Linked DNA regions of Homo sapiens. The protein of the gene in region 5 purifies or fractionates together with the protein of the main gene of each other region. This does not show direct contact. Each region holds a gene or a part of one and is shown on either strand. Other genes may lie near its edges.

Region 1 (3,500 bases), on a different chromosome or scaffold from region 5:
TGTTGAATTGAAGAGTAGGAAATTTTGACTTCCTCCTTCCCCACCTCTTGATGATGGGAAGAAAGCGTGTCCATCTTTCACTGCAGACTTAGAACATTTCTAGTTAAACTTTTTATTCCAAATACATAGTTAACATTACTGCAAATTAAATTGTCATTGTATAGAGGGATAGCAAGGACAGTAATCAGTCCTGAGATTGCTTTGATATTTGGAGGAAAGGTGACACTACTAAATTTGAGATTTACTAAACCTGGTCATTGGTGAGAGGAAAAGCTGTTTCTCTCCCAGGCATTTCACCTTGAGGGACAAATTAAGATTTCCCAAGAACATTGGAATCTGAGCAGAAGAGTAAAGAATGAAGTATTGCCAAAAATAAGTATTTGCATATAACATACACACATCTTCCCATATACTTTAAAGTATCTTTCAATTACTTATAACACCTAATACAGTGCCTACACATCATTTCATTCATGTGGATTCAACATAGTACTTGCTGTGAAGAATATTCAAGTTTTGCTTATTTGGAACTTTGTGAATTTTTTCTTCCAAATATTGTTGATCCATGGTTGGTTTAATCCACAGATGTAGGACACAGAGATACAGAGGGCCAACTCTACAGTATACTAGAAATTTTCTTGAAAGCACAATAAACAACAAAACTCTGTCCAATTCTTTTTTTCACTACAGTGTTAATTCTACAAATTATATTCTGTTTTGGGATAAATCATTTTAAAACAGAAGGTTGACCAAATATTATTGTGGATTACCTGAATAATGTCATTTTATAATAATTTCAAACCTGATCACATGAGTATATATAGAATTATCAGGACCCTTAAGTTATACTTCACAACATGAGCATTATATTGGAAAAATATTGCCTATGAAATTTGTCAACTAAGAAGATTTGTAAACTTTGGTAAATTAGTTTCTGTACCTGAACTAAAATTTTTCTCATATTTGGGAATATTTTTCCTTTCTTCTCACATGAAATTCAGTTTTAATCAGGCTTAAGAGTGTCTTTAATACCTTTTAAGAAATCCGCAGTGCTTTCTTGGAGCAAGAATAGGTCTAATATTTAGCTTTTTATTGTTTTTGCTATCTTGACTTCTTGGCTTCTGGTAACTAAAATCAATAGTTTCTCTAGACTGAAGATGTCCAACATTAGTTAGTGGTATCTTTTTCTATGGATTGTGCATGATAACTTTGAAATTTCATAAATATTATTATGAGTTTTTATATATTAAACATGAAAAAATGGCTAAGTAAGCTAATAATAATAGTTAATACTTATAGAGTGCATGCTATGAACCAGGCGCTATTCTGAGGGCTTTACCTTTAATCTTCACAACTTTATTAGTAGATACTATTATTATTCCCATTTTACAGATGGGGAAGTTGAGGCTTAGAGAAATTTAAAAACTTGTTAAAGGTCATTTACCAAGTAGCAGAGCCCAGATTTGAATCTAGGTAATCTGGCTCCATAGTCTATCCTCTTAACCTCTACATGCTTTTATTGTTAGAAAAAGGGAAAAAACAAAACTATGTTGAATGTATAGAATTGATTTTTAAACTCTTATTCAGTAAACTTTGAATATCAACCAATCAGTATTTAAAGGTTTCCTTTTACTTTTTTTCTTTTTAATGTGTGTGTATGTCCTTTTCAGTTTGTCTCCCAGTCTAACTGCCAGCAGTTCCTGAACACTGTTTGGTTTGGACAGATGTCGGGTTACCGACGCAAGCCCACCTGTAAGAAGATAATGACTGTTTTGACAGTAGGCATCTTTTGGCCAGTTTTGTCACTTTGTTATTTGATAGCTCCCAAATCTCAGTTTGGCAGAATCATTCACACACCTTTTATGAAATTTATCATTCATGGAGCATCATATTTCACATTTCTGCTGTTGCTTAATCTATACTCTCTTGTCTACAATGAGGATAAGAAAAACACAATGGGGCCAGCCCTTGAAAGAATAGACTATCTTCTTATTCTGTGGATTATTGGTAAGTATCAAGTTAGTTTGAAAGGTTTTGTCTTTATTTAGCCCACTGATTCTTTCTTGATTGATGGCATTGTGAATATTGGGTTCAATTTGCAATTTTACACTGTTCACACCACAAGAATTTGAACACTTCCATGATCACTGAAGACTTAACTAACATGTCTGTAAAGATAAATGTTCCTGAACTTGATGATAAGGAAGCATCTCTCTTATTTAATATTTCTTAAATACATGGAATTTTAAAATTATTTATTCTCAGACTCTATGGTTATTCATGATTGTAAAACAGAAAATCAGCTTTAACACATGAATGCTTTTTTGGTGTAAGAATATGAAGTTTTCTTAGGTATTTTGAAACAATCTATTTTATACTGTTGTGCATTTTTAAAGTTAACTATTCTATTTCATTTATAACATTAGTTTTCCTTTTAAGAACCTATGAGCTTTTTGGTTTTTGTTTTGTTTTGTTTTGTTTTGTTTGAGACAGAGTCTCGCTCTGTCGCCCAGGCTGGAGTGCAATGGCACAGTCTTGGCTTACTGCAACCTCCGCCTCCCGGGTTCAAACGATTCTCCTGCCTTAGCCTCCCAGTAGCTGGGATTACAGGTGCGTGCCACCACACCTGGCTAATTTTTGTATTTTTAGTAGAGATGGGGTTTCACTTCATTGGCCAGGCTGGTCTCGAACTCCTGACTTCGTAATCCTCCTGCCTCAGCCTCCCAAAGTGCTGGGATTATAGGCCTGAGCCACCGTGCCCGGCCTAGAACCTATGAACTTTTGCAGATATATCTTGCTTTATCTCTATTTTGGAAACATTGTTTAAATTTAGATTTAAAGGAGTCCCTGGTGACTCATTCCATAAATCATTTCTTTGTAGAGATAGCCAGATCTCTTTAGAAATGATAGTTTTTTAAAAAGTATAAGACATTTTATTCCTGAAAATTATTTTTATAAGTATTACACTGTATAATAAATGTCTTAAATCATCTTCTACAATTTTTACTCGTCTTGCCTTCTGTGTGTCGGGGTGCGTGTGGAGAGTTGAGGTAGAATCACATTATCTGTTTATGGTATTTTAAAGATATTTTCTTTATTTCCCTCTGTATCTTCTACCTTGTTTTTAACCTCAGCACTTCCCATCTGTCCGTCTACTATTTGCTATAGAGTAAAAGGGTAATAAAATTTAGTCTTATCTATGGCACAAAGTACTGAGTGTATTTATCTTTTGATTACTACATTCCTGATTGTTTCAATTATTTAGTACTTTCATAAGTTATTTCACAATGTTCAATTTTAGCTCTTTAGCTATACAAATACTTTTTATATTTTAGAATGTTTATTTGAAAATCAGTTAATTTCAGGTAACTAGATTGTAATTAGAGTTTTGCTTTTAACAGTATTTAATCTATGATGCATTAATGTTTAAAATTAGGTAGATAAAATAATACACATCTAAACTCTAGGTTAAAGAGAATTAAATAATTCCTTCTTGTTAA
Region 2 (3,500 bases), on a different chromosome or scaffold from region 5:
ATTGCTCGAGCTCAGGAGTTTGAATCCAGCCTGGGCAACATGGTGAAACCCCGTCTCTACTAAAATACAAAAAATTAGTCAAGCATGATGGCACGCGCCTGTAATCCCAGCTACTAGGGAGGCTGAGAATTGCTTGAACCTGGGAGGCGGAGGTTGCAGTGAGTGGAGGCGGAGGTTGCAGTGAGCCAAGATCGTGCCATTGCACTCCAGCCTGGGAGACAGAGTGAGAATCCGTCTCAAAAAAAAAAAAAAAAACAATTAGGACATGGCCATTGTGAGGGGGGGATAGGCTGGGAATCTTGCTTAGCCCTGATGGCCCCGTGTGTGCTTCTACCACCACACCTGACTCTACACTAGACAAGTCTATCATGGCAAAAGGCTCCTCTTGTTTCAAGGTCAACATGTATGAGCATTTCTTTCTCCTTGCTGGAAATGAACAGTACCTAGCCTTCTGATTTGAACAAACCAACTGCAAGAAGAAAAGTAGAACTGCCTGGGTATTTGATAGTAAGGAATTACTGTTAATATTTTATGTGTGATAGTGTTATTGTGGTTATGTTAAAATTAAAGAGATACATATTGAAGTTTGTGGATCAAAAGATATGAGATGTTAAGATTTCGCTTTAAAGCAATCTAGTGAGGTTGGAGAGAAAGGTTAGGAGAGTATACAAAAAATAAGATTGGCCATTTGCTGATCATGGTTAAAACTGGTTGATAAGTACTTTTTTTATTCTTTCTACTTTGGTGTATGTTTGAAATTTTATATAATAAATTTTCTAAAAGAGTCTAGGAATCAAGGGGGGAGAGAAAAAGCAGTCCTGTCTAAGGCTTCTCTGAGGGGGCTGTTTTTTTCCTTTCTCAGCTTACCATTGCCCAGAAGATATCACAGGCCATTCAATGTGAGCACCAAGAAGAAAGGGTATATCCATCCTATTTTTCTCTAAGACTACAGTCTTGGCCTCTGTCTCTGTCTGCCTCCAGAGAGAGATTTAGCTTTTGATCACCTCCAACAAACAACATCCTTTAGGATATTGAAACTGACAAAAGACAGCCTACAAAATCCTATGGTTTACATTAAAAGTCTGAAGGCATTGCCATGTTCCGGATCTGGGGGTTAACAGTGCATGACGAAGCACATACCCTCAGTAAGAATTTAATTTAGCTCGAATATGAAGGGATGCTTTATGAGACAAACTGGCAGCAGTTCCATGGGGTGAGCAGAGAAGTGAGACTATAAAACAGAAGACAATTTGCTATTTCTAAATTGCTCCCTCTCAAAAACTGTGGTGGGTGTCTTAAAATCATCTCGTATATCCTTTTACCCAGTAATCTCAATTCTAGGAATGTATTCTAACAAAATAATTGGGCAAGTCCACAAGGAGGTATGTGGACTACTGTTTATATCATGCCTTTGTTTATAATAGGAAAAAAAAACCAACAGAAAAACAAAGGTCCATCAGTAGGAAATAAAGTATTGATTAGGCATATAATGAAATTATATGCAACTTTTAGAATGCTGAAAAAGTATAGTACATTAGACTTCAGACATCAGCATTTAGTTTAGTATACTATACTATTAAGTAAAACAGTTTTAAAATAGATTTTATAAAATATCTTTGTTTTAAAACAAAGTGTGTTGTAAGAATAGAAAAGAACTAGAATATACAATAAAATGTTAATTATCGTGTTTTCTGGTTAGTAAAATTAAATGTAATTTTTTTTTTTTGAGACAGAGTCTCGTTCTTTCGCCCAGGCTGGAGTGCAGTGGCACGATCTCAGCTCACTGCAAGCTCCACCTCCCAGGTTCACACCATTCTCCTGCCTCAGCCTCCCAAGTAGCTGGGACTACAGGTGCCCGCCACCATGCCTGGCTAATTTTTTGTATTTTTAGTAGAGACAGGGTTTCACCATGTTAGCCAGGATGGTCTCGATCTCCTGACCTCATGATCCACCCACCTCGGCCTCCCAAAGTGCTGGGATTACAGGTGTGAGCCACTGCGCCTGGCCAAAATGTAATTTTTACCTTCTTTATGATTTTTTGCATGGTCTAAATTTTCTTCACTGAGCAGGCAACATATTGGGACCCCCACATATACAAAAAGAAGCTATTTATTTTAAGAGAATAATAACAAAACCATAAAGATGTCTAAAGGAGGAAAGACAAATTGCCAGAGCTGGACAGAGGTCAAAGTGACAATCCAAGCAAATAACCCCAAACTCTGACAGCCAAGGAGGGTCAGCACCCTTTCACTTTTTTCAAAAGACGTCTTATACTGAGCAACTACTCTGTTCTAGGCCTTGTTCCGGGTCTTGGAGACAGAAATAAATGGGACACAATTTCCTGCCCTCAAGGTTTTCAGCCTAATTGGAGGAAAGGACAGATTTACCAAATAAATGAAATGCTCTACTGGGGAAGGGCAAAGTACAGTGATGCTTAGGGGGAAGGGGCTGATTCCACCTGGCTGGCAGAATGGGGAGACAGGGGCTGATCAGAAAAAGTGTCAGAGGAGGTATTGTGGGCTGAGAGTCTAAAGGCGAATGGATGCCCTTCCAAAGCTCACAGGCCATGCAGGTGAGCTTTGAGGACAGTCTCCCCAGGCATTTGGGTTGATGTGAGCAGCTGAGGGAAAAGGGATGGGCATTGAGCAGCCTAATCTTCTTGAGGGGGAACAGAAGCACAGATGAAATATGGGGTGAGGAGTAAGGCTAGGGAGTAGGCAGGCCCACAGTATGGAGGGCCTGGAATGCCCCTACTGAAGCATCTGGTTTCCAACCTGAGGGCACAGGGGAACCTCTGAAGGGTCTGCACCTTCCCAAGATTAATCAGCCGGACAACAGTGTAGAGAAGTAAGCACTACTGGGCCTTATCTGGATGCCTGCCGTGGACTAGCCACTGGGCTTAGCACACAACGGCCCTAGACAGTGGAGAGTGTTGTTATCTCTATTTTACGGGTGAGAAAACTGGAACTCAGCGTGGTTTAGGAATTTGCCCAAGTTCTCACAGATAAGAAGTGGCAGAGCTCAGAGCTCAGAGTTCATCCTGGCTATCTGACTCACCCTCAGGTTCGGTGCTGTGAAGACGCCACGGTGAATCTAAAATAGTTTTCTCCCGAGTTCTCCATGATATTTACAAACAACCTCAAACTCAACCACTCAATTCCTACTAAGAGGAACTTGGTTGACGTGCAGCAAATGGGTTATGGGGAGAGCTTTCTCAGCCACAAAATTAGAACTTTATGAAAAAAAACCTGGAAGAAAGTAAGGTGAGACTGGATCTGTCAAGGGGCTTTATTTTTTTGAACTCAAGAGAAACCATTAGGGAGTAGGCAATTTGTTTTTGCTTTTTTTTACATAAGTAGACACAGGTGGGAAACTGTTTAGACGGGCTCACATCACCCCATAAACAAATAGGTTTGGTCCTAGCCTTTCTATTAGCTCTTAGTAAGATTACACATGCAAGCATCCCCATTCCAGTGAGTTCACCCTCTAAATCACCACGA
Region 3 (3,500 bases), on a different chromosome or scaffold from region 5:
TCTGTAACTAATAAGCGATGTGATCCTTCTTCATTTAAATACACTCCTTGTTAGATTATGGCATTAGACTAAATGAAAAAGTCCCATTCAGATAAAAGTCTATTATGCCCTCCCTACATATTATTATAGTATAGAATAATCTAAAGTTTTACAAACTAGTCTGGGAAATCCAATCCTTCCTTTTTTTAAAAAGGCCGAGAGAAGGAAACTGTACGTTTGAATAATGTATGCATTTCCTAGATCAAATGTGCCAGTTACTCAGGAAGTGAAATACAGAGGTGCCAAGACTCTTGCCCTCTGCTACTGAAAGAGCAGCCACTGATTGCTATGTGTGATACAAAAGAAATTTAAGAACTCAAGAGAGCACTTCTGACACAGCTTATTATTGCCATACATGACATCATAATTCAACAAGTCATTATATAGGGGTTTCAGATAACACTTATTTTGTATATCTGTCTTAAACACATTTCTAACATCACAAAACATAAATCAGGAAGATATCTGCTGCTGCTGCTATCAACAGATGCTGACCTGTACCATAATGATACTCAATAAATTGGTTCTAATTTCTTTAGATTATTAATTCCATAGATAATTATTCTGCATATGTCAACCAAGATTATGATTTCCTATTACTGTTTCCTTTCTGGACAGCCTCAATGAGCTTTAATAATAGCAGTTCATTTTAAGCCAGTTAGGTCTGACAAAACTTGGCAAGATATATTGCAATTGAGAGTTATTCATAATAAAAAGAGAAAAGAAGGGGCTGGGCATGGTGGCTCATGCCTGTAATCCCAGCACTTGGGAGGCCAAGGTGGGCGGATCATCAGAGGTCAGGAGTTCAAGACCAGCCTGGCCAACATGGTGAAACTCTGTCTCTACTAAAAATACACAAACACACACACACACACACACACAAATTCAGCCAGGCATGGTGGCGGGCGCCTGTAATCCCAGCTACTTGGGAGGCTGAGTCAGGAGAATGCTTGAACACAGGAGGCAGAGGTTACAGTGAGCCAAGATCGCACCACTGTACTCCAGCCTGGGCGACAGAGCAAGACTCTGTCTCAAAAAAAACAAAAAACAAAAGAGAAAAGAAGGAAAAGAAAAATACTGCACATCACTCTATTCTGAAAAGATCCCTACTTTAAATATGAAAATAGGCCGGGTTCGGTGGCTCATGCCTGTAATCCCAGCACTTTGGGAGGCCAAGGCGGGCAGATCACCTGAGGTCAGGAGTTCGAGACCAGCATGGCCAACATAGTGAAACCCCATCTCTGCTAAAAATACAAAAATTAGCTGGATGTGGTGGCATGCACTTGTAGTCTCAGCTACTAGGGAGGCTGAAGCAGGAGAACTGCTTGACTCTGGGAGGCGGAGGTTGCAGTGAGCCCAGATGGTGCCACTGCTTGCCTCGGTGACAAGAGTGAGACTCCAAGTAAAAAGAACAGAAAAAGCTCCATTTTAAAAGGGATAGATGTGGCATTTTGCTCTTTCTCCCACTTTCTTCCTTTTTAAGCTACTTCATTTTCCAGTTAAGTAGTTCCAGAGATTGTTCACCATGAACCTATATTCCTTTGGTCTTCAGATTAAACCAGCCTTTTATTCTTAATCAATAATGAAAGTTGGGGGTTAAATAACCACTAAAGGATAAGTAAGTTATTTCATTCTTAGGTTGAAACAATCTGTGTAAGTTAATTGCTTTGATATTCTGTTTTGCATACAACGAGAATCAACAAGTTTCAATGTAACACTTCGATTAATTCTATCCATGAAAAAAATGGCTTTTCTTTTACAGAATTCCAGATTCTGCATGAATAGCAGGAAAAAAATGTTGAGAAAACATGTCTTGGCTGGGCATTGTGGCTCACGTCTGTAATCCCAACACTTCGGGAGGCCGAGGCGGGTGGACCACTTGAGCTCAGGAGTTCGAGACTAGCCTGGGCAACATAGTGAAAGCCATCTCTACCAAAAGTACAAAAAAATTAGCCGGATGTGGTAGTATGCATCTGTGTTTCCAGCTACTAGGGAGGCTGAGGTAGGAGGACTGCTTGAGCCCAGGCAGTCAAGGCTGCAGGAGTCGTGATCACATCACTGCACTCCAGCCTGGATAATAGAGCCAGATCCCACCTCAAAAAAAAAAAATGTCTTAACTTCTGACATTTATTCTCAAAAGACAAAAGTCATTTACTCAGGAGGGATGGATTATTGTAGATAAGTAAGTAGGAGTATATTCCAACCCTCCTCTGTTATGTTTCCTCAGTTTGCAGAGCTACTTTTGAAGTTCAGGGCTTATACACAGAAGAGATACAGGGAACAGCACAATGCACAGAGAATCAAGCTGTTTAAATTCAAAGACAAACTATATTTCCTCATTTCTCTTCCTGCAAAAAAACTGTAAACATAAAGTAGGTTGCAGATACAATATCAACTTCCGTATGTTCTGTAAAAAATTAAGGGAAAACATGGAATGATAGCCAAACTATAAAGCATACCTGTGATGAAATATTGAGAGAAAAATGAAACTGTGTTCTTTCTCAAACTGCTATGCTTTAAAGTTAAGAATAACAGATGCAATACATCAAGCTTCCATGTTAATTCAACACTTTAAAGTTTCATTTTTAAATAGCTTTATTGATATATAATTCATATACAATTCACTCATGTACACAATTGGATGGTTTTAGTTTATTCACAGATTTGTACAATTATCACCACAAACAATTTTAAAACATACTTATGCCCTCAAAAAGAAACTTGGTACTGATTAGTAATCACCATTCCCTCATAAATCCTCATCTCCACATCTAAGGAATTACTAATCTGCTTTCTCTCCTATGGATTTACCTATTCTGGACATTTTATATAAATGAACCAATATATGGCCTTTTGTGACTGGCTTCCTTCGCTCAGCATAATTTCTTCAAGGTTCATCCATGTTGTAGCATATATCAGTACTGTAGGCTTTTAAAATTATCAAATAATATCCCATCATACATACATATTTTGTCTTTGATTCATCACCTGACAGACATTTGGGTTGTTACTACTTTCTAGCTACTGTGAATGCTGCTGCTATGAACATTCATGTAGACATTCTTATGTGAATATATGTTTTCAGTCCTTTTGGATATATACTTTGGAATGCAATTGCTTGACTGTATGGTAATGGAGACTGACTTTTAACAGATCTAGCTGAGTAAATGTCTAACAGAACAATATACTCTAAAAGAAGGGTTACACATACTTTTTAAAAAGCACTTGCCCTACTCCATACTAAGTTAAGTAAACCCACCTATAACTATAAAAAAAATTCTGAAACTGAAATTATTTTCTACTTTTTATTTTAAAAAGGTGCAGAGTTGGCTGGATGTGAAGGCTCACACCTGTAATCCCAGCACTTTGGGAGGCCGAGGCAGGCAGATCACATGAAGCCAGGCGTTCAAGATCAGCCTGGCCAACATGGCAAAACCCTGTCTCTACCAAAAATACAAAAA
Region 4 (3,500 bases), on a different chromosome or scaffold from region 5:
AAGTTCCAGCTGGGTATAGTGGGTCATGCCTGTAATCCCAGCACTTTGGGAGGCCGAGGTGGGCGGATCACCTAAGGTCGGGAGTTCGAGACCAGCCTGACCAACATGGAGAAACCCCGTTTCTACTAAAAATACAAAATTAGCCACGTGTGGTGGTGCACGCCTATAATCCCAGTTACTCGGGAGGATGAGCCAGGAGAATTGCCTGAACCTGGGAGGCGGAGGTTGCAGTGAACTGAGATCACACCACTGCAGTCCAGCCTGGGCGACAGAGTGAGACTTCATCTCAAAAGGTCAGGAGATGAAGACCATCCTGGCTAACATGGTGAAACCCCGTCTCTACTAAAAATACAAAAAATTAGCCGGGCGAGGTGGCGGGCGCCTGTAGTCCCAGCTACTCGGGAGGCTGAGGCAGGAGAATGGCGTGAACCTCGGGGGGCGGAGCCTGCAGTGAGCTGAGATCGCGCCACTGCACTCCAACCTGGGCGACAGCGAGACTCCGTCTCAAAAAAAAAAAAAAAAAATTATATTCCAAGACCTCCCCACACTCAATGGAAAGAGACCAAATCTTTCTGTTAATGGCAGCTAAATGGAAGGGCAGTTGGGTTTCCCTTGGCATTCAAGCTGGCCTAAGCCCAAATCCCTGGGAGGCTGCCAGCAGGTGTTGGGTAACTCTGGTCACCAGCAGTTGCTTCAGATGTCACTGCAGTAACGGGGTATGACACAGGAGACCCAGGCAAATGTGAGGGTGGGTTAACTGTGCTGTGAATAGGAGTAACCTCAGATGAAAGCTAGGGCTTACTCAGCTACAAAAAGTCAGAAAGCTTCCCCTGCCTTCATGAGGTGCCATTGTAAGCTAGTGTGATGGTAAAATTCCCACAACACCCATCTGGGCAGCCCATGTTAAGTTGATAAAGTCAAGATCTTTTCTAGGGTTGATACATGGAATTAATCCCCAAATACAAACTTTGACTGTTTCAGAGATGTGAATACAGCTGTGATGGAGTTGCTCATCATGGCTTACGCACTGAAGACTGCCTGTGCCAGGAACATTATTGGGGTCATCCCCTACTTCCCCTACAGCAAGCAGAGCAAGATGAGGAAGAGGGGTTCCATTGTGTGCAAGCTGCTAGCATCCATGCTGGCGAAAGCAGGTGAGTGTGCGCGGGGGCCCTGGGGTTCCAGCATGATCCTTTAGGGCTCTTTCCTAGTTGGACTTAGCTCATACCTCAGATATCCAATCTGGGATCTGAGTGTTTGTTTCCTTTTGAACAGTTTTGGCTAAGGATATGTGAGCTCGGTTAGAAATTCTTTTTTTTCCCTTATTCGCTTTGTCCTACTTTAGAATACCATTGCTTTAGTGTCTTCTCTTCTCTGTCATCTGTCACATATTTTCTATTTCATCTTGTCATCGCTAAATTCTTAGCTGGCAGTCTTGGCATTCTTATGTGATCTTTTGATCTTCAGGTCTAGATTTCTATATCTGCTTTGTTAGCTAAATTCCATTTTTGTTCATAGTATTCAAGCTGGATTTTCTTTTACTCCCTCTCCCCCACCCTTGCCTTTCTACATAGTGGCTCATTTTCATTGCTTTATTCTCCTTGTGTGGCGGGGGCACGCTTTCTGGCCTGTAAATCAATGTAATATTTTACAATTGGGTTTCTATTCATCTGATGTCTGTTCTAAAACTTTAACGTATATTTGGGTCCTCGGAAAGAAATGTATGGTCCTCCCTCAATGTCCTTATAGGATTGGTTCCAGGAACCCATCTCCCGCTTCCCCGGCTCCTCAGCAGATACAAAAACCCAAAGATACTCAAGTCTTCCATATAAAATGCCATAGTATTTGCATATAACCAACACAGTCATCTGTAGATTATTTATAAATACCTAATACCATATAAACACTATATAAATTGTTGTTATGCTGTCTTGTTTAGGGAATAATGATGAGAAAAAAGTTTCATACCTGCTCAGTACAGACACAACCATTGTAGGCCTAACTACCTTTTCAGTCTGTGTTTCGTTGAATCCACACGTGGAACCCATAGATCCAGATGGTCAACTGTATGTGAATTTCATCCTCTCCAAAAAACTATAGTGTTTCTGGAAAGAACAAGTAATACTGGTTCTACACCCTGGAAGTTTTGCTGTGACCTTTGACCATTTGCAATGTGTTTATATATATGTACCTTTTCCTCTTCAGTACTCTTGATTATAAGAGTATCTCTTCATTGTTTTTCTATAAGAATACTTGAAACATTCTTTGTTACATACAGAAATTATTCTAAGCTTCAATATCTTTGTGTTATATGAGTTTCTTTTCTTCTAATATGTATATTACTTTGCGTTTGTGTTCTTGCTACTTTTTGCCTTCGCTACAGTTCTTTATCCTTTCTTTTAAGATTCTGTAATCAAGGCCTTACTGTTTTTTCCATCTCTTCGGTATTAATTCCATATTCATATTTTTGCTTCTGCCACATTATTCTTTTCTCAATTTTCTGGACCAAGCCAAAAGTCAATAATTCCCACTTTCTTAGCTTTAGTTCTTTGTCCATGTGGAAGGTTGTAGCCTTCTCTACATTAAGGCTTTATTAAGGTTAACAATCAAGCCTGTGACTGCAGTGCTTAATCACAGTACCCCGTCTTCAGTCTGCTGGTAGGAAGCAGGAGTTGAGCATCTAGTTTAGGTCCACTGTAGCCATTTACCTGTAGGGGTGAACTTTGTAATTTTTTGTTTTAAAATTTCAGGTTTAACTCACATTATCACTATGGATCTTCATCAAAAGGAAATACAAGGCTTTTTCAGCTTTCCTGTGGACAACCTTAGAGCCTCACCTTTCCTGCTTCAGTATATCCAGGAAGAAGTGAGGAACCACCAGCAAACACCCCATTGTCCTCAAAAGAGATCTTATTTAGTTTTTCTCTGGTATCAGATTTCGTTACTGGAAGGCACATCAAATGAGCTCTCCCTTAAGTCACAATGCCTGAGGCAGCAGACAGGGTCAGCTTTAGTCGTGGACGATCATAGCTTTAAAAGACACTAAAAACAGATTTTTTTTCTACGTATCTTTAGCAATTTGCTTATGTTTTCTAAAATGAATGTTTTAAGAATTATTTTTAAAAAATTCTTGACGTAGGAGTGCTTTTTCCAGTGATGTTAATTGATAAATATTGAAAAATCTAAAACTTGTGACTAAAATTCTAGCATATTTGATGACTAGTTTGGATCATTATAAGAGGGAAAACTTGAATACCAGCATCCAGGTGTTATTTTCTGATAACTTTTCAGTATTTTCTATTTTTCCTTCAAATCTAGATTCCAAATTACAGAAATGCAGTCATTGTAGCTAAGTCTCCTGATGCTGCAAAGAGGTAAGTAAGCTAGACATGGGTCCTGATCCCTCCTGAGTGCTCCCGAAGTCAGAATGAGCTGCTTTGGAATCCAGAGGCTGTCACTCGTGGCCTTTGAAAGCCCACTGGCTCTCATGTTAACCCCTC
Region 5 (3,500 bases):
AGATAACTGTATCTGTCATAATGAAGGTTGGAAACATTCCACGTTAAGCCTGGTACTTGAGTACTTTTTATATTTCTTCACTTGCCAGGTTTTCTTTACTAGGAATATTTTGGTAAAGTATTTGTGTTTTTTAGTATTTTGAGGTTGTCTTTGAAAACATTCTTAGGGCTGGTCACAGTGGCTCACGCCTGTAATCCCAGTACTTTGGGAGGCTGAGGCAGGTGGATCACCTGAGGTCAGGAGTTCAAGACCAGCCTGGCCAACATGGGAAACCCCGTCTGTACTAAAAAAATACAAAAAAATTAACTGGGCATGGTGGCGTGTGCCTGTAGTCCCAGCTACTCAGGAGGCTGGGGCAGGAGAATCGCTTGAACCCAGGAGGCGGAGGTTGCAGTGAGCCAAGATTGCGCCACTACACTCCAGCCTGGGCAACAGAGCGAGACTCCATCTCAAAAAAAAAAAAAAAGAAAAGAAAACATTCTTAGACTATAAACCCTACAATAGAACTGAGTCTTGCTGTCCCTTCAAGGTAACAGTAGTTGGTGTAATGGATAGAATTTTCTTTTTGTTTTATTTTAGTTCAGCAATCAGCAAACATTGGGAGGCTGAACTGGCTACCCTCAAAGGAAATAATGCCAAACTCACTGCAGCCCTGCTGGAGTCCACTGCCAATGTGAAACAATGGAAACAGCAACTTGCTGCCTATCAAGAGGAAGCAGAACGTCTGCACAAGCGGGTAATTTCAGGGCTGATGTCTATAGGGATTTAGGGCTAACAGGTTTTCTTGATCAGAAGAAATTTGCATGTAGATTCAGCACAGGGATATCTTCTAGTTCTAGGATGTCAGAACATAGATATGGGTTGTATGATATGCATTTGTTTGATTAAGAAAAATATTTTCCATAGTTTAATGAGAATGAAGAATATACGCCTTTTGAAGTCAACAAACCATGTTGATTCCCCATATTATCCATGGGGACTAGCAGTAATGCACAAGTACATAAAAGCACTAATGTATTAGTGCTAGTTGATTAGTACTGACATGGTAGTTAAAGTGTGTGCTGAGAAAAAATTCAGGGAGTAGTTTAATTAGAATTTTAGCTTTGGGTGTTGACGGTGAAGCGGGAATGCTTTTCTCCTGAGTTGTCCTGGGGAGGGGATTCTCCATTTCTGGTTTACAAGACCAGAGTATTCCAGAGTGCGAATTCCAGTTCTGCCGGTTATTATCTGTATGATCTTTGATAAGTTATTTCCTTCTTCCAGCTCAGTATTCTCATCTGTAAAATAGGAATAATAAGTACTCTGTACAATTCCTGTGAAGATTAATTGAATACTTAATTGGCATGTAGTTGCACTGAGTCAAAAGTATGTATTCTGTACAATTCCTATGAAAATTTGTTGAGACACTTAAGTGCCGTGTAATTGCACTGTCTCAATGAGTTGCAGTGAGTCAATGAGCTGCTTTTATTATTTTCTTTTTAAAGAAGGAACAATTTGAAAAATACAAGTAGAAAATTATTAACTTTGGTAATATTAGAGATTTGGTGCAGAAAAAGAAAACCAGAAATTTCAATACCATTAATATCAGAAGCCCAGATAATTACTTGTAAAGTGTTTTAATGCTCTCAGGCCAAGAGTTTGAGATTAGCCCAGGCAACATGGCAAGACCCCATCTCCATTAAAAAAAAAAAAAAAAAAAATCTTTTTTCTTTTTTTTTTTTAATTAACCAAGCATGGGGACACACGCCTGTAGTCCTAGCTACTTGGAATGCTGAGTGGGAAGGATTGCTTGAGCCCAGGAATTGGAGGCTGCAGTGAATTATGATGGCTCTACTGCACTCTAGCTTGGGTGACAGAGCAAGACTCTGTCTCTAAAAAACAAAAAAAAAAAAGAAGAAGTTTTTTTTTTTTTAATTCAAGGCATAGAAGTGCTTCACCCAACAGATGCCTTTAATTTCTCCTTTTAAAAAAAATTCCAAGCTGGGCACATTGGCTCACACCTATAATCCCAGCACTTTGGGAGGCTAAGGAGGATGGATTGCTTGAGCCCAGGAGTTCAAGACCAGCCTGGGCAACATGGTGAAACCCCATCTCCACTAAAAATACAAAAATTAGATGGGTGTGATGGCATGTCCCTATAGTTCCAACTACTTAGGAGGCTGAGGTGGGAACATCACTTGAGCCCAGGAGGCAGAGGCTAAAGTGAGCTGAGATCACGCCACTGCATACTCCAGCTTGGGTAACAGAGCAAGGCCTTATCTCAGAAAAAAAAAAAAAAAGAAAGAAAAGGAAATGCAGTTGAGACAGAGTGGAAATGTTAGAAACTTGAGTAAATGTTATTCTATCCTGTGTGTAAAAATTAACTTAAGAGAGGTGGGGGAAAGGAGAGTTGTTTAATGGGTATAGACTTACAGTTTTGCAAGTTAAAAAAGTTCTGGAGATCTGTTTCACAGCAATGTGAATATAAATACTTAACACTATTGAACTATACACTTAAAATGACTAAGATGATAAATTTTATGATATATGTTTTTTACCACAAAAAAAAATTTATGACAATTGTCATAGCCAGAAAATATTAAGGAGCTATCATGTCTCCTTATTGTGTAATCTCTGCCCTTAAGAAATTTTCTCTTTAAATAGTCAATTGAATATTAAAGAACTTAAGAAACATAATATATTTATTTACTCACATATTTTCAGTTTCCATTGTGCTTCTTTCCTGTAGATCTGAATTTCTATCAGGTATTGTTTCCCTTCAGCCTGAATAACCTCCTTGAGCAGTTTTTGTACTCCAAGTGTACTGCCAACAAATTATCTCCACTTTTATTTAGATAAATTTTGTCTTGATTATAAGTTACATTTTACTGTTTTTTCAGAAAAATGACTAGTCATTTTTAATTTTGTATTGGACATTGCAAATGAGATGTTGTAGAGACCACAGATTTTGTTATTTTTGAATAATGTTGAGTTTTTGTTTCAACAGGCAGTTATTTGGAGATTATCTTGAATTTGTGGAGTTGTGTACTTATGCTTTGTTAGAATTCATGTATTTCAATTTTGCTGTAACCCTAGGGTAAATCACATTGTCCTAGGAAATCTTTATCTCTAAGACATAACCCTTTCCAAAGTTTCACTGCAAAGCTTGAGGTATTTACCAAGGCCCTCTAATTTAGCAGGGACTAGCAGAACTTCAAACTGTCATCTCTGTTGAGCACCATCGCAGTTTAGTTCTTTCAGCCTTCCAGCTCTTTTCCTACTCCTAGTTGTGCCAGGTGTTCTGCAGAGTCCTAAAATTCTCAGGCTTCTCAGAGAAATAAGACTATGGATTTCTGCTTGTTCAGTCAAGCAATGCAGCCAGACTGCAGAGTACCTTCAGGCAAAAAGATGTGGAAATCACCCAAAGTGACTGCTTTCTTGCAGTCTTTTGCCCAATTTGGTTACTCACCAGGTCCTTCAAACAGTTGACTTTTACATTTTGCCCACAATTTGCAATTGTT
Region 6 (4,266 bases), on a different chromosome or scaffold from region 5:
GAGAAACGTCAACTGATTCTGGAATTATTGCTCAGATGTCCTCAGATGACACTGGTTTAATCATGACCAGCTTAACCTCCATTTATATGTCTTCTCACTGTCTCACAGATTCCAACTGTTCTATGCAATATGTATCATACTTTTAAGTACTCAATGAAGAATAATTAATTTCCAGGATTGGGCCTCTAAGGTTTTTCAATGTTGTAAGCTATAGCTTTAAAACTGTATTGGTCTCTTTACTTCATCTCATAGTTCTTATAAATTATTATTAAATTCTTAAATACTAGTCAGCTTTGTTTAATGGAAGATATAAAAATCAGAATATTTATTCTCATATACTTTTCAAAATATATTGGACTGTGGAGGTCTCCCATTAGTGTTTCTGCTAGGCAAATTACATTGTGAAGTCTTTTGTTCATAAATGTTAATAATAGGTGGCTACGAATGATTACACTGAAAAAGGGAGGAACATAACACCTTAAAATCTGAGTTGTCACACATTTCAGGGGAAAAAAGTAAATACTTTATTTTGTTGATACTGAAGCTAAAAATACACAAAATTATTTTATTGTACAAGATTCTTTTTAATACATTAAGATTGACACTGTGCACTTACAGAAAGTGTTTAAATAAAAGTGATAGTTATTCAAAGAGATTTCCACTTTGAAAATAGTCTTCAAAGCCAGTGTCATTTACACAGACACATTTGGAATTTTCCCTTTTCATGATTATGCTCAAGATGTATCATTTTAAACTGAAATTTGACACACTTTCTATATGGTGATATGTGGTTGGGGCTGCCAACTAGGCTTAGAAGGTGAATTACACATAGCTCGTATTCTCTAGTATTCTCCTTCCTGCTACCAAATGTTAGTTTGTAGCTGCAGACTGCATTCATTGTTTTGAGTAGAAAGAAACTCCCATCCCTAATTTCAACCCCATTTTTGAGAAATATGGAATAAATAGAATCCTGTGAAGAGTTTAACTATTGTTCTGTTGAATAGTACCTCTGGTGTGCATTCCTATTATAAGAAACAAACTAAAATGTATTTGCTTGAGAAGGATGTGTTTATCCTTATCTGAAGTGTCCTGGGGAAGGTCTGTGTCTTTACTGTTGAGATAAGATACAGCTTTACTTTTACTTTGTTAAGGTAGTAATTTGAACACTTAATTTTAAAGTTAATTTATCGAATTGAATTTCCTTTTACATTAAACCACAGACTAATGTGTTAACCCTTTGGGTTTAGAGGACTCTTCATGTGCTCACATAATATTCATTTTGGTGTCATTGGTCCCACTTATCCTGTTAAGACACTTGAGAATTCTGGCTGCTTCTCCTGCCCACGTACACTAAGCACAGTTATCACTGATTTATTGGACTACAGGTTACTTTGCCTTGGATATTTAAACTGATTGCTTAATATGTTTTACAAGGAGGTCCTACAAGGTGTGGCCACAACATGATGAGGCTATACTTTAAATACCATGACTAGATCTTATACAGGAAATACTTAATCTGAATATGTGACTTTCAAATGACCTGAACACATTCAGCTAGCTAGCTGCCATCTTCCTATTAGAGTTTCTTTCCATTGCTTCTGCCACCGTGGGTTCTTATGAGTCCAAAATCCTCCCCTCTGTTCTCTATGGAGGTTAGTGGTTTTTCTTTACTGTCCCTCTCCCTGATAACAGCCTAGTCACCAGAGCCTCTGTGCTATACAATGTCATTTCTTAAGGATCAAATAAGTTTGAGGAGTCAATTCTGAGTTTATTTACAGCATAAGCCATTGGAACTCAATGTATTTTACTGTTTAAACACAAAGGGTTAATCATTATGGTTGTTCCCAAATCAGTGAAGCTTCTCTATCTAAATATATTGCTCTTTAAAGTGTTCTCTTCAGGAGGCTATGTGCTTATTCATGTAAGGCTACCACTGCTCCAAGCATAATTGAAACTAGATTCCAGGATACAAAGGAGAACAAGCATTCTTGAGGGGGTGATGGAGATATTCTATAACTTGATTTTGGCTGGTGCTTCCAGGGGTATATACAACTCTGAAAACTCACCAATTTGTACACTTTAAATGAATGCAGGTAATTGTACATAAATCATTCCTCAATAAAGTTAATTAGGGGAAAAAAACTAGATTCCCAAGAACAGTTCCAGGTCCCTTACAAATCCCACAAGAGACAATCTCATTATTTTATAATTGCACCTATCAAAGTGCCTATTGTGTAGTAGCACTTGAAAATGTTTTTTGTTTGTTCGTTTGTTTGTTTTTAACCAGAGAAAGTGGTACTCATCTTGACTACCACATGTTTTACCAAGTGTGGATCTAAAATTACTTTTGGCAATTTCTAAATTCCTAAAAATTTAATCTTATAGGATCATGATTTTCTACCATTGAGGATATTCAGAGATTGTACTGTGGACTTTGAAAGTCATTTCAAAAGCAGAAGTCCAAAGTGGGTAGAGTAATGGCAGCATCATTAGAATATGGGTATGGCTTTTTAAGGTGACTACTTTAAAGGACCACGTTCATTTGGGTGCATAAGTTCTGGTATGTTTATGAAAATATCAGTCATTATCCTATTTTATGTTTATTCCAAATTTATGAGGCTAAAAGATGACAGCAGATACATAATCTGGCTTTTTGCCATAGTGCCCTTCCTTACCTTTCATTTCTCTTTCATGTTGTTTTGACAAACCCACTTTATTTCTTAGATAAAATTTGAAGGAAGTGATCTTTCCAATTGGCTAAAGTGTACATATTTATGAAAGCCCATCTGTGATATTGCATTATGGGTGTGGTGTGTTGAACTTATATTTACAGTGATCCCAAGGTTGAGAACTTGTTAACATCTGAAATTTAACCCAAATATGACCCAAAATTTGAAAAATGATTTACCGGTAGTTCTGCTTTCATATATTGTTGCATTTTTTGAATTTCATTAAAGGAGAAATGATGATGCTAATGTTTTAATTAACCATTTTAAATTATATTTTTAATTCAGGTTATTCATCTCAATTTGGCCATCCAAAAAACTGACAATTTGGTGGTTTAGCCCCGTGTTTTAAAGTGTATATCCTCACTCATCCTTACTTCAAAAGCTTTTCCAACTGTCTCTTTACTACACTATCACCATCTAAGTTTCCCAATCCCAGCAAAAATCCAAAGCCTCCTTTCTTCCTTCCAAGGGTCAGCTTTAAGAGTTGTGTAAGAGCGGAGAACTGTCAAGAGGGTTCCTAGGTTGGAAGGCAATTGGTGGCAATGAGTATTTTGGGGATATATTGAACTTCTGGGAAAAGATACAAAATGGCCAATCCCAGCTTAATTGTACTTTCAAATGGCTGGCTACCTTAGGCTTAAATAAAAGGCACACTGCCACATATTCATTCAAGTGCCACTAAGGACAGTGCCTTTTGTGTGTATGTATGTAAGCTCCTGGGATGTTAGGTTGCCCCAAAACCTGCTAAAGTCAAAGGGCAAATATGCTGAAAAATGGTGAAAATGACCTTCACGTTGCAAGTCATTCTAACCTACTTCAGTTAGTCTTTTTTGGTTCTATCAAGTCACTGGAGTTATAAAGAAAGTTCTTTGAGGGGGAGGAGGGTAGGACAGATACATGCTACTTTCAGGGATGTATGACAGTTGATTTCAATGATCAAAAGTTGTGGGCTGTTTATGTTCCTACAGAAATTGTTTGTCATTTATTTGTGTAGTAACAGGAAGCCTCTAGAGCTTTCACATCTTTTCACATCATATAAGAAAACTAGCTTTTTGGCATAAGGGCATTCCACTTAGTTTTATGTTTAAATATTATAATTCTTAATATGTATATGTCTCTCAGGTACCACAAACATTGATGGTATATCTTTAGAAAAAGAATGAACACAACTCAGATCCAGTAATCAAGTACAAGATACAAATCCACTCAAGTTGGGGATAACACAAATACTGAGCCTAAAGATGCTAGAGCACACTGGCTTGCTGCCTCTATCATTCCAGCAGTTAACTCTGTTTCTTAAACATTACATTTTCTAAAAGTAAAGCTCTCACAAAGCACCCACTAACACCTCCTCTGGATCACCACACAAAAGATGAAAATCCTAGGCCACGTACCAGCATATGAATGAATATTAACACCTCAAGTATGCACCAAATCTCAGGTATACAGTAAATCTGAAGTATGCAGACTGACTTTATTTTGCCAAAAATGTGTATATTTAAGTCTTCCAGGTAAGTTATTCTGACCTAAATGCTTT
Region 7 (3,500 bases), on a different chromosome or scaffold from region 5:
GGTCTCCAGGAGACTGGCAGATCTAAACTCCCTCCAGAGCAGACAGGCTAATCTTGCATCTTGGCCCTGCCGGAAGTTGGGGACAAAGAGCCCCACTCCCTAGGTCACAAGGTGGCCTGCCACGTGGGTCAAGTTATTTGTGCCTCAGTTTCCTCATTAGCTCTCAGAACAATTGATAACATTACATAACTCCCAAGTGCTGTGCTCGGGTGAGCACAGTTCCATGTGTGCTATAAAGATGATGCTGTCACACCCAGTGACACTCCAGCCACTGTCACTTCGCAAACTTCATAGAGAACAGCCACCTGAGAGCACCTAATTCAAAAGTCTGTACAGTGAAACGTGGGCTGAGACAATGGGTTGACCCTTTTCAAAGTCCTGGGGGTTCCCAGGATTATCTGATGCAGGGGGAAGGGTCCCCCAAGCTGCTGAAGCCCAGGTACAGATTCTGCCCTCCCTCTGTAGTCTCTGCCAGCAGTCGGGGGCAGGAAACCCTCGGATCTGGTTTCTTTCCTGATCTGAGTTCCCTCATCCCGTCACCTTTTAACCTTTAATGATGCCAGAAGAAGGAGCCTGGCTTCTCTCAGACAAGATGGTGAGGTGGAGGTGGGAAAAGAGAAGCTCCTCCATTCCTTCCTAGGATAAGGGTAAAAGTAACTCAGGAATTTGCCAGACCCCGGGTGCTACTAGCAACAAATAATGCACAGGCCAGGCACCGTGGCTCATGCCTGAAATCTCAGCACATTGGGAGGCAGAGGCAGAAGCAGGAGGATCGCTTGAGCCCAGGAGCTTGAGACCAGCCTGGGCAGCACAGTGAGACCCTGTCTCTAAAAAAAAAAAAAAAAATTAAATTAGCCAGGCATGGCGGCACACGTCTATAGTCTCAGCTACTCAAGGCTGAGGTGGGAGGATCTCTTGAGCCCAGGAGTTTGAGGCTGCAGTGAGCTGTGATTGCACCACTGCACTCCAGCCTGGCCAACACAGCAAAAAGCCTGTCTCAAAACAAAAAAATAATGCACAAAACTTCAATATGATCAACCCCCAATAAAATATAATCTGATCTTTTGGACCTAACCAGATTCTCCTTAGAGGTAACCACAAATCGTACTGCGAGCCCCTAGGCTCTTTTTGGGCTCTCTTGGGCTCTCTACTCCTTGTACCACTTGACAAAGCCTTAAGCCCAATTCCAGGACTTGAGGGGAACAGGTCCCTTTCTGATGCTTCAGGGTTGGAGGCAACAGTGTAAGGAAATAAGAAGGTTGCACTGAGTGAAGACCCGAGGTAGAGAGGAAGGACAGGCAGGAAAGAGAAGCCAGCACACAGAACCTGGCTTTGTTGGCACACTTGGAGAGATTCAAAGCTGGGGTCTCCAGACCAAGTTCAGTGACTGCCAGAACTGCAGGTGTCTGGGCAAAAGAAGAACCCAGAGTCTCATGCTGGGAGGTGGAGGCTGCCCCAGACAACCTCTGCTACCGTGATGGCCAAGGCAGAAGATGGTGGCTGAAGCAGCTCTGGCTGAGCACAGACATCCAGGGATCCTTCTTGCCTGGCACTGTGGTTTTTCCAGATGCCTTCAGCTCCATCTTTGGGGTGAAGGGGAAACACCAGGTGTGCAGAGCAGTTTCTTACAGGTGGGGAACTGTAAGCCTTCATTAATGACCACACCCTAAACTGTGCTCACCTGAATCCCAAAAGAGAGACCCTTCCTCAGCTTGAGTGGAGACAGCCAGTTCCCCTGTTCCTGGCAAGGGAGGGCTTTGGATGCCAGCACTGCCATCCTGGCACAGAGCCCAGAGCTGCAAGCTGGCAGTGCCTGGGGGAGACTCCAATGTAAGTTAGTTGGAAGGAAGCCCAAGTCTCCTCAAGAAGGCGTATTTTAAGCTGGAGCTTTCGGGGCACGGTGAGCGGGAATGTGGGAGACTAATGTCTGAATTTTTCTTTCTTTCTTTTTTTTTTTTTTTTTTTAGACGGAGTCTCGCTCTGTCACCCAGGCTAGAATGCAGTGGCGCGATCTCGGCTCACTGCAAGCTCCGCCTCCCGGGTTCACACCATTCTCCTGCCTCAGCCTCCCAAGTAGCTGGGACTACAGGCGCCCACCACCAAGCCTAGCTAATTTTTTGTACTTTTTAGTAGAGACAGGGTTTCACTGTGTTAGTCAGGATGGTCTCGATCTCCTGACCTCCTGATCCACCCGCCTTGGCCTCCCAAAGTGCTGGGATTACAGGTGTGAGCCACCACGCCTGGCCCTGAATTTCTCTCTTTTTTTTTTTTTTTTTTTTGAGATGGAGTCTCACTCTATCGCCCATGCTGGAGTACAGCAACCTCCACCTCTTGGGTTCAAGCGATTCTTGTGTCTCAGCTTCCCCAGTAGCTGGGATTATAGGTGCACGCCACCATGCCCGGCTAATTTTTGTATTTTTAGTAGAGACGGGGTTTCACCATATTGGCCAGGCTGATCTCAAACTCCTGACCTCAAGTGATCTGCCCGCCTTGGCCTCCCCAAGTGCTGAGATTACAGGCGTGAGCCACTGTGCCCGGCCCTAATGTCTGAATTTCCTTCCCAACGCACTCAAGCAAAAAGGGCTGTGTCCAGTGCCACATGCGGGCTCCTTCCAGCACTACCATCCAGTTCCCTGCCGAGAGAGGGCACGCATGGGCTTGGCCTTCCTAGAGCACCCCAGAAGCACTGGCTGGAGTTGGCCTTCAGGACACTCTGCCGGATGACCCCTCAAAGTGTCCCCAGCTCCAGAATTTGGTTCTTTTCCTCACGGTCGGGAAAAATCCTCCAGTACGTAGGTCAGAAGAGCTACGCAGAGCTCAGGTCAGCTCTGTTTCCAGGGCGAGATTGCTCAACCCTTCTCCCTCCGCCCACAGGCCTTATCTCTGGCATCAACCCAGCTCCCCATTCCTCCAAGGGACGGACTCCTCCCTCCCCCCACAGGGACAAACTCCTCTGAGTCTGCAGAACCAGAATGAGAACACAGAAGGCTGGACTTACTGCTAACCAAGTGCAACCCTGACCACTCTGACTTCTGACTTCTTCACTTCGAACCCAATCCAAACGTAGGGGCGTGGGGTGGGGGAGAGTGAAAGGGAGAGGCCAACATCAAACACCTTTTGGCCACACCTGCGCACAGACAGTCCGGGCCGCAGAAATCAATCAGTCACTCCAAAGGGGTGGAAGCCCTGGGCCACTGCCAACCCAAGGCCCTTCTGGAAAAGCTCTGGACTTGTTAAGAAGGGTTGGCCAGGGCTGGGTGCAGTGGTTTACGCCTGTAATCCCGGCTCTTGGGGAGGCCGAGGTGGGTGGATTGCCTGAGTTCAGGAGTTCGCGACCGGCCTGGGCAACACAGTGAAACCCTGTTTCTACTAAAATACAAAAAAAAATTAGCCGGGCGTGGTGGCATGCACCTATAATCCCAGCTACTGCAGAGGCTGAGGCAGGAGAATTGCTTGAACCCGGGAGGTGGAGGATGCAGTGAGCCAAGATTGTGCCACTG

What was found.
Region 1: the proteins of HOMER1 (region 5) and TRPC1 purify together in Homo sapiens (affinity purification with western blotting, with the first as the bait; one study listed by BioGRID). This does not show direct contact.
Region 2: the proteins of HOMER1 (region 5) and KIF5C purify together in Homo sapiens (affinity purification with mass spectrometry, with the first as the bait; one large-scale study listed by BioGRID). This does not show direct contact.
Region 3: the proteins of HOMER1 (region 5) and PALS1 purify together in Homo sapiens (co-immunoprecipitation; one large-scale study listed by IntAct). This does not show direct contact.
Region 4: the proteins of HOMER1 (region 5) and PRPSAP1 purify together in Homo sapiens (affinity purification with mass spectrometry; one large-scale study listed by BioGRID and IntAct). This does not show direct contact.
Region 6: the proteins of HOMER1 (region 5) and TRPC5 purify together in Homo sapiens (affinity purification with western blotting, with the first as the bait; one study listed by BioGRID). This does not show direct contact.
Region 7: the proteins of HOMER1 (region 5) and CDC42EP4 purify together in Homo sapiens (affinity purification with mass spectrometry; one large-scale study listed by BioGRID and IntAct). This does not show direct contact.

What each region holds. Positions count from the first base shown.
Region 1 is NC_000003.12:142,783,034-142,786,533, forward strand, and holds part of TRPC1 (short transient receptor potential channel 1), read left to right. Parts: intron 1-1,670; coding exon 1,671-2,007; intron 2,008-3,500. UniProt on the Homo sapiens protein: Forms a receptor-activated non-selective calcium permeant cation channel. Forms a heteromeric ion channel with TRPC4 or TRPC5 that has reduced calcium permeability compared to the homomeric TRPC4 or TRPC5 channel.
Region 2 is NC_000002.12:148,881,727-148,885,226, reverse strand, and holds part of KIF5C (kinesin heavy chain), read right to left. Parts: intron 1-3,500. UniProt on the Homo sapiens protein: Microtubule-associated force-producing protein that may play a role in organelle transport. Has ATPase activity. Involved in synaptic transmission. Mediates dendritic trafficking of mRNAs.
Region 3 is NC_000014.9:67,303,935-67,307,434, reverse strand, and holds part of PALS1 (protein PALS1), read right to left. Parts: intron 1-3,500. UniProt on the Homo sapiens protein: Plays a role in tight junction biogenesis and in the establishment of cell polarity in epithelial cells.
Region 4 is NC_000017.11:76,329,917-76,333,416, reverse strand, and holds part of PRPSAP1 (phosphoribosyl pyrophosphate synthase-associated protein 1), read left to right. Parts: intron 1-981; coding exon 982-1,154; intron 1,155-2,750; coding exon 2,751-2,866; intron 2,867-3,318; coding exon 3,319-3,374; intron 3,375-3,500. UniProt on the Homo sapiens protein: Seems to play a negative regulatory role in 5-phosphoribose 1-diphosphate synthesis.
Region 5 is NC_000005.10:79,399,135-79,402,634, reverse strand, and holds part of HOMER1 (homer protein homolog 1), read left to right. Parts: intron 1-579; coding exon 580-736; intron 737-3,500. UniProt on the Homo sapiens protein: Postsynaptic density scaffolding protein. Binds and cross-links cytoplasmic regions of GRM1, GRM5, ITPR1, DNM3, RYR1, RYR2, SHANK1 and SHANK3.
Region 6 is NC_000023.11:111,767,511-111,771,776, forward strand, and holds the end of TRPC5 (short transient receptor potential channel 5), read right to left. Parts: 3' UTR 501-4,266; downstream 1-500. UniProt on the Homo sapiens protein: Forms a receptor-activated non-selective calcium permeant cation channel. Mediates calcium-dependent phosphatidylserine externalization and apoptosis in neurons via its association with PLSCR1.
Region 7 is NC_000017.11:73,305,502-73,309,001, forward strand, and holds part of CDC42EP4 (cdc42 effector protein 4), read right to left. Parts: intron 1-3,500. UniProt on the Homo sapiens protein: Probably involved in the organization of the actin cytoskeleton. May act downstream of CDC42 to induce actin filament assembly leading to cell shape changes. Induces pseudopodia formation, when overexpressed in fibroblasts.